Linked DNA regions of Homo sapiens: region 1 is linked to region 2. A link means that fine-mapping ties the variant in region 2 to the expression of a gene that starts in the linked region. Tissue or cell type: fibroblasts. Region 2 holds a variant in brackets; the other region holds the start of a gene. All regions are shown on one strand. Distances are from middle to middle.

What was found. PIP is the estimated chance that this variant, and not a neighbour inherited with it, causes the effect.
Region 1: MESD starts here. The variant in region 2 is fine-mapped to the expression of MESD in fibroblasts (GTEx, PIP 0.93).

The regions. Positions count from the first base shown.
Region 1 is chr15:80,985,616-80,992,359 of GRCh38, reverse strand. MESD (mesoderm development LRP chaperone) reads left to right here and starts at 2,541. Exons shown (of 3, transcript NM_015154.3): 1 at 2,541-2,781. The coding sequence starts at 2,569. RefSeq lists a silencer at 2,268-2,547 and enhancers at 2,298-2,592, 2,232-2,845, 2,578-2,857, 2,846-3,460.
Region 2 is chr15:80,284,632-80,291,375 of GRCh38, reverse strand. LINC00927 (long intergenic non-protein coding RNA 927) reads left to right here. Exons shown (of 3, transcript NR_033833.1): 2 at 3,523-3,561. Among named protein-coding and RNA genes, the nearest start is that of CTXND1, 36 kb to the right of the region's middle. The variant C/T (reference allele first, on the strand shown) is at 3,950.

The DNA.
Region 1 (6,744 bases), 700 kb before region 2:
CTCACTGATTAACCTAGATGGTGCTGTGGCGGAAGAAGGACTCCAAGAAGACTGGACCTTGTTATCCAGTACACCTCGGCTTAGATTCTTGCCTTGCCGCTGCACTAGCTGTGCAGCCTCAGACAAATTGTGTAATTGTAAAACCAGGATTTCCTCTTATTTAAATTGGAGAGATTATCATCATCATCACATCATCCCTTTGGGCCCGGATCTCCTGTAATCTGCATGAAATTTACTGCATATTGTTTATCTGCTCTGCCAGAGTAAGGATATTGTTATATTCATTTTTGCATCAGTGCCTCACCTGATTCTTGGTTAACAATAGGTCTTTGGTAAATAAAATTCCCCCCAAGTTGAATGGAATCAAGTTCCAAACACTAAAGTAAGTTTCAAATATCCAAATGTTGAAAATGCAATTGATCCAGATGTTTTCATATCAGTGGATTATATGCCGAATTGATTTCCTCCTTAGAGGAAAGTCAGTAGCCCTGAAACTTTCTACACATTCCCAACAATTTCTGTAAAACTTTCAATGATCTTATTCTCTATAACTAGATATGTGGGCCAAGAATCCCAACACGTTTGCCCCTTAACTTTGAAGCTGGCAATATGAATTACCAGGGTGACCCCTCCCAGTAGAGCACATGATCAGCCACAGCTGTGCATGTTTTTTAGTATGACTGCACTAGGATAGGGCTCCAAGCCACTGGGTGGAGCAATGTGCTCTGGGGAGAAAGCTCATGACATTTCCCCTATGATTTCACAAAAGAAAAAATCTTTTTCTTATGAGTTGTTTCTGCTCAACGTCAATAGGAAAGGTCATAGCTTAGCGTGTTTACATACAGATGCATGCATGAATATGTAGAATATCAGCCACTCCTACGGTGTGAGAGAATTTAAATTGCACTGGTCCTAAGAGTGAAGGAAAGCAGGCGTAGTTGCCTACTCAACCTCCACTTTATTCTTTTCCCTTTATAACAATCCTAATTTCATTTGAGATGACAATGTATACAGCTAGAAGACAATTTCTCAGCCTCCCTTGGAGAGCTAGGTTCCAGCCAATGAGATGTAAACAGAAATGTATGCAATGTTCAAGTAGGCTGCTTAAAAGAAGTTGACTCCACTTGAAAGGTGTGCTTGGTTTGGCCTGCCTTCTCCCTTCCTCTGGTTGAATGTCATCTTGATGACTGGAGCTCCAGGAGCCATCCTGGAATTTCTGACCTTGAGGGTGGAAGCCACAGGCTAATATGATAGAAGGATGAGGAAGAGGCTGAGTACCAGATGGCTGAGAAGCCACTATACCAGCCCTAGTTTCGAGTTTACACTGCTTCTGTGAAAGAAAAGTCAATCACAATAAAACCTTTTATCTTGTTTAAACCACCTTAAAAAGTCAGTTTTCTTTTATATGCAGCCTACTAATCCTATCCAAACAAGGCTTGAATAAGGTTTACTACAGCTCTTTTTTGTTGTAATAGCAGAAAAATTGGTAATAAATGCCCATCAATAGGAAAATAAACTATTAATTTAACAATACCAAATAAAACTGTGCAGCAGTATAAAGAATGAAGCGTTTTTTGTTGTTGTTTTTGAGATGCGGGTCTTGCTTTATTGCCCAGTCTGGTCTCAAACTCCTAAACTCAAATTATCGTCCTACCTCAGCCTCCCAAAGTGCTGGGATTATAAAGGCTTAAGCCACCGTGCGGCCTTTGGTTTTTTTTGTTTTTTGTTTTTTAAGGTCTTATGTAATTAAACATTTTAAAGACATCAGCTGATGAGCCGTTTAAAACAAGAAGAATCTCAAAGCATCTTTGGCCAAAATCTTTTTAAGAAACAAAAAGTAGCGTGATTCAGCCTTGAAAAGGATTAGTTAGAGCCTACAGTATTAGGTTGAAATCAAAGAAAGGCAAGCTTTTTTTTTTTTGGATGAATAGTAATGATCTTTTTGGAAAAAAAAAACAAATATTGAAAGCTGGTTGAACTGAATCCTCTTTATTGATGAGGAAAGCAGTGGACTCGAACTATTTATGACTTTCTGAAAAAAGTTGCCCTACCTGCCACTCACTTCTTTTTAACTGGCTGTTCTCAAAGGAAATTGCAAGAGACTGAGGATAAACGTCCGACATCCAGAAATGGGCTTTTTTAGAGCCGAGGCAGCCTCCAGAACTTCCAGTTCCAATTTATTTCACAGGCGAGAAACTGAGGTCAACAGGGACGTTGGTTAGTGGTTCCTGGAGGCCCTGAAGGAACTTTTGGACCTGGCTTGTGCGTTCCAGAGAAAAAGGTCGGCCTCTGACGGAAAACGAAAAATGAGCACTCAGGGACCCACCCAGCCGGGACAGAGCGCCTCAGCCGGACCAAGAGGAGGAGCCAGTGGGGCGGGGCCAAAATGGCGGAGGGGCGGGGCTTCCAGAGGCGGGGGTTAGGAAATGGTACGGGGCGGGGCCCGGTAGGCTAGCGAGGGCCGGGAGGCGGGGCCTCGGAAAGGCGGACAGGAAGGCGTGTGCAAGGCGGGGTCCGGCCCGCGCAGGTCGGGTAAGCGCGTCTAGGGCGCTGCGCGGCGCAGCGAAAATGGCGGCTTCCAGGTGGGCGCGCAAGGCCGTGGTCCTGCTTTGTGCCTCTGACCTGCTGCTGCTGCTGCTACTGCTACCACCGCCTGGGTCCTGCGCGGCCGAAGGCTCGCCCGGGACGCCCGACGAGTCTACCCCACCTCCCCGGAAGAAGAAGAAGGATATTCGCGATTACAATGATGCAGACATGGCGCGTCTTCTGGAGCAATGGGAGGTCCGCGGCGCGCGCACACCCTCCCGGCTCTTCTCTGTGCGGGACCCTGTTCCCTATGACCCCTTACCTGTTCTGTCTTGGGACCTTTCTGACCCCCTAACCTCCTCTACTCATGCCTTGAATCCTTACTGACCCACTGAAGCCACTGTTGACCCTCCATTCCTCCTCTGACCCGCGCGCCCTGCTGACCCTCGCTCCAGCCCTCTGTCATTCCAGTGCCCTGTTCCTCCTGCCATTTCTCAAACCACTTCAATCACGGATCTGCCCCTCACTGTTCAGCTTTGCTCTCCCTTCACCCTTCAGTGCCCTGGTTGTCTTTGCGTTGATTCTTGTGGTCAGTGAGCCCTGCAAACAGGGAGAGTGACCTTTCCCAATCTACTAAAGAGCATTTCCTTCTGTTTTGCGGTGAGTGGGTGGGAGAGTGGGTTGCAGTGAAGATGGTCTTCCTTAATGGTTATCTCAGCTGTCTTCTAAATCAGTATAATTTTAGACTTCCTATTTTGGTATATGTCCCTGCTGGGAATTTTGTGCTTTTTGTGGGTGGATTTATTTTACTGAGGGGAGAAGTATCAATGGCTAATGGCTCTGTATCGTGAAACTCACGCTTTTTGTTCAAAGGAGAGTAAGTTTTCTGGTTTGTCACTTGGACGCACCGGAGTGTGCAGTTACAGGGAGTGTGTAATACGCTTTAAGGTAAAGATTACTGGCCAAAACCACATTGCTGCCTTTTCCCCTTCCTAAGGTGATTGTATCGTCCTGGTTGACTTGCATAGCTGTGGAACCTTGGGCAGGTTATGTCTAGTTTCTAGGCCTCGGTTTCTTTATCTGCAACATGAGGAGGTTAGGATGGGTCCTAAGATTCCTTCCAACACTGATGTTTTGTTATTTTGTGATTATCTCTGTGTGTGTTACGGGAGAAGGGAAAGACTTTCAGACAAGAGTTTAAAATACCACCTGATGCATCTGACTAGAAGAATGCAGGCTTGTGTTTTCATGTGGTCATCAACAGCTGATGGAAAGATTGGGATAGATTTGAGTGTAGAGAGAACGTCCCCATTCACCGTCTCCCTTGCAATCTCCTTGTCTCTTTTTGGACTCCAGCAAATAAAGCCTTTTGATCTGCCAGAGTGAGAACATCACCTCATGAGAAATCCTCCCCTTGACCTACTCAGACCCTGAGCTAGACGAAGAGGGTGCTGAAGAGATGAACAAAGATTGCACTGGGAACAGTAGATAACAGGATGGATGAGTGGGGAGAGACTTTGAAGGCCAAGAAAAACACATTATCTCATTTAATCCTTTTACCCCATCCATGAGGGAGGTACTTATCCCTATTTTCTAGATGATGACATTGAGACACAAAGAGGTTAAATAACTTGCTCCACATCGCACAGCAAGCTAGCTGAGTTTCAAATTCTTTCGCGACTTTTAGAGCCAGTTCTTTGAACTGTTTTACCTGTACTGCCACACATGTTGGTGACAGAAGTGCAAATGAAGGATAGTGAGGAAGACGTGGATTAAGCTAGAAACTGCAGGAGCAGAGTAGAAGGGAGAAATGTGAGATTTTTATACTTTTAACAGGACTTGATGGTTGATTTTGTTTTTTAAATTATTTTTTATAGAGACAGGGTCTCCTTATGTTGGCTGGGCTGGTTTTGAACTCTTGGCCTTTGCAGTCCTCCCACCTTGGCTTCCCAAAGTGTTGGGATTACGGGCGTGAGCCACCATGCCTGGGCAATTGATTGATTTTGTGAATAGCAGGGCCACATAATGTAGTAAAAAGACAGGTTGGCTGGGCGCAGTGGCTCACGCCTGTAATCCCAACACTTTGGGAGGCAAAGGCGGGTGCATCACCTGAGGTCAGGAGTTCAAGACCAGCCTGGCCAACATGGTGAAACTCCATCTCTACTAAAAATAAAAAAATTAGTTGGGCATGGTGGCGGGCACCTGTAATCCCAGCTACTTGGGAGGCTGAGGCACAAGAATCGCTTGAACCAGGGAGGTGGAGGTTGCAGTGAGCCAAGATCATGCCACTGCACTCCAGCCTGGGCGACAGGGTGAGACTCTGTCTCAAAAAAAAAAAAAAAGACAGATTTTGAACTCAGCTTTACCCCTCACTAGCTACTTCATCCTAGTTTTACGTATCTGTAAAGCCAGATAACGCCCTACTTTGCAGGGTGCCATGCGGATTAAATGAGTTAATGTTTGTAGACGCTCTACAGACATGAGGACTCTTCCCCAGTAGCAGTGTTTTTTATGTGGGAGAGCGTATCCATCTCTGTGGGTGCTTTTTTTGTAGGAAGCAGTTCTTCTCCTCTTGTGACCATCTCTAAATCCATACCCTCACTCCTTCCCCAGCAGTGTGAGAAACAGTGCTTCAGTGAGAGGCTGTGCCTCAGAGGTGTGGAGAGGTGAGAATTCCTTCCATTGTGTTACAACTAATTCTGAGTCCCAATTGGTGTAGAAAAACCAAAGGTGGTTATTACATTTTACATTATGATAGCCAGGTATAATGGGAAGAGGCAGTTGGAGGGATTTGGAGCCAGAAATGTGGTTTGCACTTCTAGCATGTGAGTAAATTAAGTAAATCATTTATCCTCTCTGAACATCATCTTCCTTGTATATTAAATGGAACCGGGTAGGATTGTTCTGAAGGTTGGAGATAATATATGTAGAGTGCCTGGGACTTAGTAGCTACTTAGTAGATGTCACTTATTATTAATATCAAGAACCATGGGAGGAAGAAGAGGATTTGCAGAAAGGGGAGCTCAGCTTTGTAGCTACTGACTTAGACAAACAGTAATGAAGGAGCTCTAAAGCCAGTTGAAAATGCAAGACTGGCCTGGAGGCAGGGCTAGGACTGGAGTCAGGGGACTGCCTGACTTGTCCCTGGCCCCCCGCTCTGCCTCAGGGTAAAGACTGGATTGTTTTCAGCATAAACACACTGATCATAACAGGTTAGGTTACCCAGACTAAGGGTAGAACTGGATAATTATGTACATCTAGGGTACTATTTTTACACTTCAATTTTAACATATAATAATTATACATATTTATGGGGTACAGAGTTGTATTTCTACACATGTATAAAATGTAATGGTCAATTCAGGGTAATTAGCATATCTGTCTCCTAAACATTAATCATTTCTTTGTGTTGGGAACATTTAAAATTCTCTCCTAGCTGTTTGAAAATATGCAATAAATTATTGTTAACTATAGTCATCCTACAATGCTATAGAGCACTAGAATTTATTCTTCCTATCTAATGTAATTTTGTATCCATTCACCATCCTCTCTCCCTATCTCCCCTCCACTTCCCAGCCTCTAGTAACCACAATTCTAATCTCCACTTATGTGAACACAACTATTTTAGGTCCGCATACGAAGGAGAATGCGCGGTATTTGTCTTTCTGTGTCTGGCTTATTGCACTTAACATAATGTCCTCCAGGCTCATTAGGGTACTATTTTGCAATTTTCTTTTCTGTAACTGAAACACACACACACATATACAATGGAAATTAAAGCTGCTTTTTTTTTTAAGTCTCTTGAAACAATTTTTACCTGTATTATATGCACTAGACTTACGACTATTTAATTATATTTGCATTAACAAAGAAGTGCTGGACTGGGCTTAGTGGCTCATGCCTGTAACCCCAGCACTTTGGAAGACTGAGGCGGGTGAATCCTTCGAGCTCAGGAGTTCGAGACCAGCCTGGGCAACATGGTGAAACCCGTCTTTACCAGAAATACAAAAATAAATTACCCAGGTGTGGTGGCATGCACTTGTGGTCCCAGCTACTCTGGAGGCTGGGATAGGAAGATCACTTGAGCCTGGCAGGCAGAAGTTGCAATGAGCCAAGATTGCACCAGCACCATTGCATTCCAAACTGGGTAATAGAGTAAGACCCCATCTAAAAAAAAAAAAAAAAAAAAAAAAAGCTGCTTGGGACCTACTGAGTTAA
Region 2 (6,744 bases):
TGCACCAATCAGTGCTCTATAGCTAGCTAGAGGTTTGTAAAATGGACCAATCAGCACTCTGTAAAATGGACCAATCAGCACTCTGTAAAATGGACCAATCAGCACTCTGTAAAATGGACCAATCAGCAGGACATGGGCAGGGACACATAAGGAAAGAAAAGCTGACCACCCCCAGCCAACAGCTGCAACCTGGTCGGGTCCCCTTCCATGCTGTGGAAGCTTTGTTCTTTCGCTTTTCACAATAAATCTTGCTGCTACACACTCTTTGGGTCCGTGCCACCTTTAAGAGCTGTAACACTCACCGCAAAGGTCCATGGCTTCATTCTTGAAGTCAGCAAGACCACAAACCCACCAGAAGGAACCACCTCCAGACACACTGATATTATTTCTGTTTCCTCAAAAATTTCTTGGCTCTCTTTGGGCACTTATTCTTTCAGATGAACTTAGGGTCTATTTCGCAAGTTCAAAAAATAATCTTGTGTTTTCATTAAAATCACATTCAATTTGTAAATTAGTTTTGGGAGAATTGATTATCTTGGCAATAACTGTTCCATTGCCTATGTATATCTCTTTAATTATTCAAGTGGATTTTTATGTCCCTCTGTAAAAAAACATACCACTGTTAAAAATACCCAGCCAATTTCATGTTAAATTTGCTCCTATGTATTTTCTAAATTGCATTGCTATCTGTTGATAGAGTCTATTACATTTTCTATCTAGTTATTCCTAGAACAACTATGGATTTTTGAATGTTTACTTTGTAACCAGCCACTTTATATTAACTCTTCTAGTTTTTCTACTTCTCTCAATTTTCTAGGTAGGCAATTAAATTACCTGTCAGCAAGTCTTGGTACTTTTTCCTACTTCTTCACGATCACACTTCTTTCACTTTCTTAGCTGATTGATAGAGAACTTTCAAGAACAGAGTATTGATAACAGTCATCTTTCTTTTGTTTCTGGCTTTAAGGAGAGAGCCATCATACATTCCTGTCGGTTTTGAGAGTTATTCCCCCTTGTGCTGAAGAATCCTTTTCCTTCCAGATGCGTCCAATCTCCAGTCCAGCTCTCACAGCTTTCCTTGGGGAGACAGCAGTGAATGCAATGTGCAGAAGCCAGGCCCCTCCCCACTGCATTTCCTTTGTTTTCTGCATTTTCTGCACTTCCTGCACCTCCTTCAGTGCTCTGAAGATACTGGATGTAGAATTATGGCAAAAATTAGGCTAGGACCCAGACCACCTCCCTGACAGCACCTGTGGACAAAGGAAAGCCTGCCAGAGGGTATGGCTGGTTGGGCAGAGGCTCTGGTCACATGACACAGAGACAGGGAGAGGTGGAAAGTGCTCACCTCTTTCGGAGCTCTCAGTTTACTGGAAGGAAACCCTGGATGGGCGTTTCTTCAGTCCAGCTGCATCTGCCTCAGGTCACCCAGAAGTCTCCACTTTCTTGCCTATTTCTTTTTTGGCTGGTTGAGACTTTTTTGACTGGATCTGCCGCTCCTTTATGAACTGACCTGACATTTGCCTCTTACCTGCTACAGAGCTCCTCTTGCCTCCAAGCCGCTCTGGTCTCAGTGAGAGGTCACCCCCTCCTGCTTCTCCTCCCTAGTGTATAGTCGACCTGAACCTAGTCTGTATTCAGCAGGCTTTCCCTGCAGGCTTGGCGTGTGGGAGGGAAGATTGCTTCCTGCAAAAGTAAACAACTCAAACAGAATATTATATCCTTGCTCTAAGATTCTTCAGTGACTCCTGACAGGGCATTTCTCATTCAGAATTTGAGCCGTGTCTACTTTGCTCTTTCTCTGTCTTGACATCACCACTTCCCTCTGTTTTTCAAATCCATGTCTCCCCAAAGACTTTCCCACAAGCTCCAAAGTCCTCCTCATTTCTGCTGTCACAGGGCAGGCTCATCCAGGCTTTGCAAAACCTAACATAGCCCACAAGATCTTGACTTAAATAAAAGAACTCTCAACCTCAGCAAAGACTCTTCCCACTGCCCTAGACACCTTCTAGGTGTCCCCAGCAGCTTAAGGGTTTTGTTGTTGTTGTTGTTTGTTTGTTTGTTTGCTTTTTGGTGGAGTCTCGCTCTGTCGCCAGGCTGGAGTGCAGTAGCGTGATCTCGGCTCACTGCAATCTCCGCCTCCCGGGTTCAAGTGATTCTCCTGCCTCAGCCTCCGGAGTAGCTGGGACTACAGGTGCACACCACCACATCCATCTAATTTTTTGTATTTTAGTAGAGAAGGGGGTTTCACCATGTTAGCCAGAATAGTCTTGATCTCCTGACCTCGTGATCCACCCACCTCAGCCTCTCAAAGTGCTGAGATTACAGGCATGAGCCACCGGGCCCAGCCAGGATTTTTTTTTTAACAAGTTTATTTTCCCCTTCCAATTATACTTATTAATATTGGGATTCCTTCTAGAATTTTAGAAATAGGTTGACCTTCAGACTTATTTTCTCAATGGGTAGTTAGTGCTGGGTTCTCGATCTCTCTGGTTTAGTCTGCAAGTATTTTAGTGGCAAGTCATCAAGGCAAGTCGGAATCTGCTCACTAGACACCTGTTCGCATCACACATCCAGAGACTCATTCCTAGTCCTCAAATGCATGTTTGCTGAAAGATGTACTGGGGACTTTGTGTGAGGATGGCTGCTTCATACCTGCAGCTGACTCAGGGTCATGGTAAACTATCAGCTTGAAGTGTGTGACTTCTCATAGGCACTATCTACCCCAGGCAGCTATTCAGTGCAGAAGAGCTCATGAAATGTTATGGCTGAGAGTGTTAATTGTCCCCCACTATTTGTTCTCCCTTTAACAACTGTCTATTGCTGTGTGACAGCCCACTCTAAAACTTAGTGGCTTAAAACAAGAATTTAGAATTTCTCACGGTTCAGTGGGCTGGCTGGGCTCAGCTAGGCTGTTCTGCAGAATGTGGTATGGACAGCAGACACTCATGCAGTTACACTTAGCTAGTAGCTAAATCTGGTGCCTTAGCTGCAGTGGCTAGAATAGGTCGGAGCTCTCTGGCCCTCCTCTTTCTCTCTCTCTCTCTCTCTCTGTCTCTCTCTCTCTCTCTCGGCAGTCTCTCATCATTCAATCATCTTGTCTGAGCTTATTTATATGGAGCTGGATCCCAGAATAGTGACAGAGAAAGCTGCCAGGCCTCTTAAGGGCTAGGTCTAGAAACGTCACCTGATTTTACTGGTTAAAGAGAGTCCCAGGACAGCATCAACAGAATGTGTTGACAAGAGACTTGTTAGCATAATGGCCTTGTGACCAGAGCCACCATAATGGCCTAGACTTTTTGGAGAGCAAAATAAGTCTCTGTCATTCTGCATCTTTGTTTTACATCTCTGTTGTTTGGGGTGTCTGTTATATGCAGTTGAGCTTATTTTCCAAGTAATACACATGTGTTCTAATAGAAAATCCCTCTATAGAAAAATCCTTCTATTTGAATTTCCATTTTTCCTTAGCTCTGTTTTATTTTGTATTTACACAAATTTATTTATTATACATTTTATATTTTATAGGTATATTTGTAAGCCGAGTTGAATGCTTTGTGGAGAGAGGTAAGTACATTTTACAATTAGATCTTAGAAGTAAAATCATTTGTAAACATTACAGCACCATGCTACTCTAAGAAGTTGCCATTACTCCAATAATGATAGTTTCTCACATCCTTAGACAAACTTAAGACCCAGCATAATTCCCCAAGTTCCTTCTAGATCTCAAATATTTACTCCTTGGTCATATGCCATGCCCCACTCTCTAAATCAGCCTACTTGATTGTTTTATCTTCTATTTAAAAAAAGGTAACATAAAATTTGCCACCCTAACCAGTTTAAGTATACCATTCAGTAGTGTTAAGTAGATTTCCACTGTCACACAGCCAATCTCCAGAACTTTTTCTCTTGTAAAACTGAAACTCAGTACCTGTTAAACAACAGCTCCTCATTC[C/T]CTCTTTCCCCATGCCCTCGCAACCACCATTCTGTGAATTTAACTACTCTAGGTACCTCATGTGATGTAATCATGTAGTATTTGCCCTTTTGTGATTCATGTATGTCACTTAACATAATGTCTTCAAGGTTCTTCCACATTGTAGCTTATGTCATAATGTCATTTTTAAGGCTGAATGGTATTCTATTGTATCTATTAATATCTACCACATTTTGTCCATCTATTCATCCCTAGGACATATGGGTGCTCCCACCTCTTGGCTTCTATGCAGCCTGCCTTCTCTTTTCCCTGACTTCACCTTTTCACACACACCTGTGCACCAGCACCTTAAGCCCAAACTTTCATTCCTGAACTCATAACCAGGTCAATTAACTAGCTCTGACCATTTGCATGTCCCACACTGGGTGATGACCCTCTGTTTGGTCCTCCACAGGGAGATGGGCGATTGTCCCCACACACAAGCAACAATGAATTGCATTTAAAATGAAGGGCAACATCATACTCTAATATTCTTCTCCTTTTCTGATTTTGCTTGGGCTCCATAAATGGACAGGTGACAGTGTCCTCAGAGATCGTGAGGGTGAGGGTTAAATGCAGACATGAGGGCTGCGGAAAAGCAGTGCATCTGATGCCCTTCACGAGAATTGTAAATGAGTCCCCCTTCTCCCAAACTCTCTGTGGGGAATGGCTTCTGGTGATTGGGCATCCCTGTGGTCTCAGGTCATTATCCAACGTCTATGGGAGGGGTGCTCCGTTAGATCCAGAGAGAGAATAGTGGGGGAACTAACCAGGGAGAGTGGCCCAGTGGCCAGGACCCAGTGTCAGAGGGAGTAGATCATCTCATCCCTACTTCCAGGAATAGTGAAAGCCAGATGGTGCAACCAAGACAGCATGGCTCACACTGGAGACTCTAGGGGCCAATAAAGTATTCAGAAAACATCCACTAGGTATTAAGTCCTATGCCAGGTACTAAGAGCCCAAAAGTAAAAAGGGCATAGTTCCTGCTACCGAAGAACTAACAGTCCATGGAGGGAACAGGCTTGTAACTAAACAACTGCAAGACACTAAGTGTCACTCAGGAAGGAGCTGTTGCAGGATGGGAAGACCCGGGCTAGACTACTTCCCTGGCCTGGGGCCTTGGCAGGGTAGGAGTTTGGCAGGCCTGAGAGGATGGCTGGAAGGATTTCCGACAGAGGGGAGAGCATATGAGAAGTCAAAAATGCACAAAGAGGCACAGCGATGACGCCATGTGCCTGGAGAGAAGGGGCCAAGACAGAAATGGCAAGATGGGAGCTGCAGCAGATCAGAGCGCAGTGTGGGTGTCCTTGAGGGGTGTTGGGTTGCCACGTGGTAGATGCTGCTAAAGAAGGGGCCCAATGTCAGACTTGACGGAGAAGTTCCTTCCAACTGTAGGAGGACAGACAGAGGGGTCAGGGAGACTGGAACCAGGAGGACCAGTTAGGAGACTATGACAGACTCCATTTCAACCTAGTCATTGAATCCAGAGAGTAAACTCTGCTTCCTCCCAAATTCTTGTTGAATTTTAAGATATATTTTTTAAAGTTCTTAAAAGAAAAAAACAAACTCTGCATATATGCCAGATAAAAATGAAAAGGTGTCATCAATAAGCCAGAAAGAAAGGAAACTTCTTCAGGTGTTGCTAGAGACTAATAATGTGTCCACCTGTCCAGGATTCTTTACCCACGGCTTCCTTCTCCCAAGGAGGCACGGTGGAGGCTGGAGTGAGGGTGGCATGGAGCAGATCGAAGTCTTCAGAACAGCCCAGGGCCTGCTCTCATGGTGAAGGCCACGAGGCTCCCTGGAGCCTGCCCCTTGTGCAGGCATGAGCTGGGTAACGCGGGGGCCCTGCTGAGGCAGGATGTCCCATTCGCCTCACCATGAGCCACCACAGCTATCAGAAAAGCAACTGCCCATCCTGCTGAGGACACTTCTCTGCCACAAGGCTCTGCGTTCCTACTCCTGCTCTTGGCCCACCAGACCTCCAAGAAGCAACCTAAAAACACACACACACACAAAACATGAGCTTCCCTTCCCGTTTTATGCCAGAGAGATCCCATATGAACCCTCAGTACTGGACAAAATGAAGATGAGCAAAGAGAAAAATGGACAGATGCCACCATTTCATGTATCAAATACTGACGTGGTGATGCAAGAGTCAGGATTGTTTTAAAGTCTACATGAATATTAAACTCATCTATTTACAATGACAGCCCTGTGAGGCAGGTGCTATGGTGGTCCCCATTTTACAGATGTGGTAGCTGAGACTCAGAGCAGTTAAGTCACTTGCCCAAGGCCACACAGCTCCACATGGTGGGATTGGTCTTGAGACCAGGGAGTTAGTCTGGCCACAGAGCCTGTGCCGTTCACCCTCATACATGCTGCTTCCCTAAGCAGGAACCAATCTGATAGATAAAAGCACAATCCCCCCCTCCCCCCAATAAAACAGATTTATTTTTTTTAAAATAGGAAAATATCTTCCCTAAATCTCCAATTTCTCTTTTTGATGATAATACATAATAGAAAAATATATATGTAAATATGCAGAGAAAAGAATCTGACAACAAGAAAGATTTAGATGCAAAATACATGGTCGAATTTTAAAATGCAGAGATGAGCAAAGTTAGGGAAAACAGGCCGGGCGAGGTGGCTCACACCTGCTATCCCAACACTTTAGGAGGCTGAGGCGGGTGGATCACCTGAGGTCAGGGGTTTGAGATCAGCCTGGCCAATATGGTGAAACCCCATCTCTACTAAAAATACAAAAATTAGTTGGA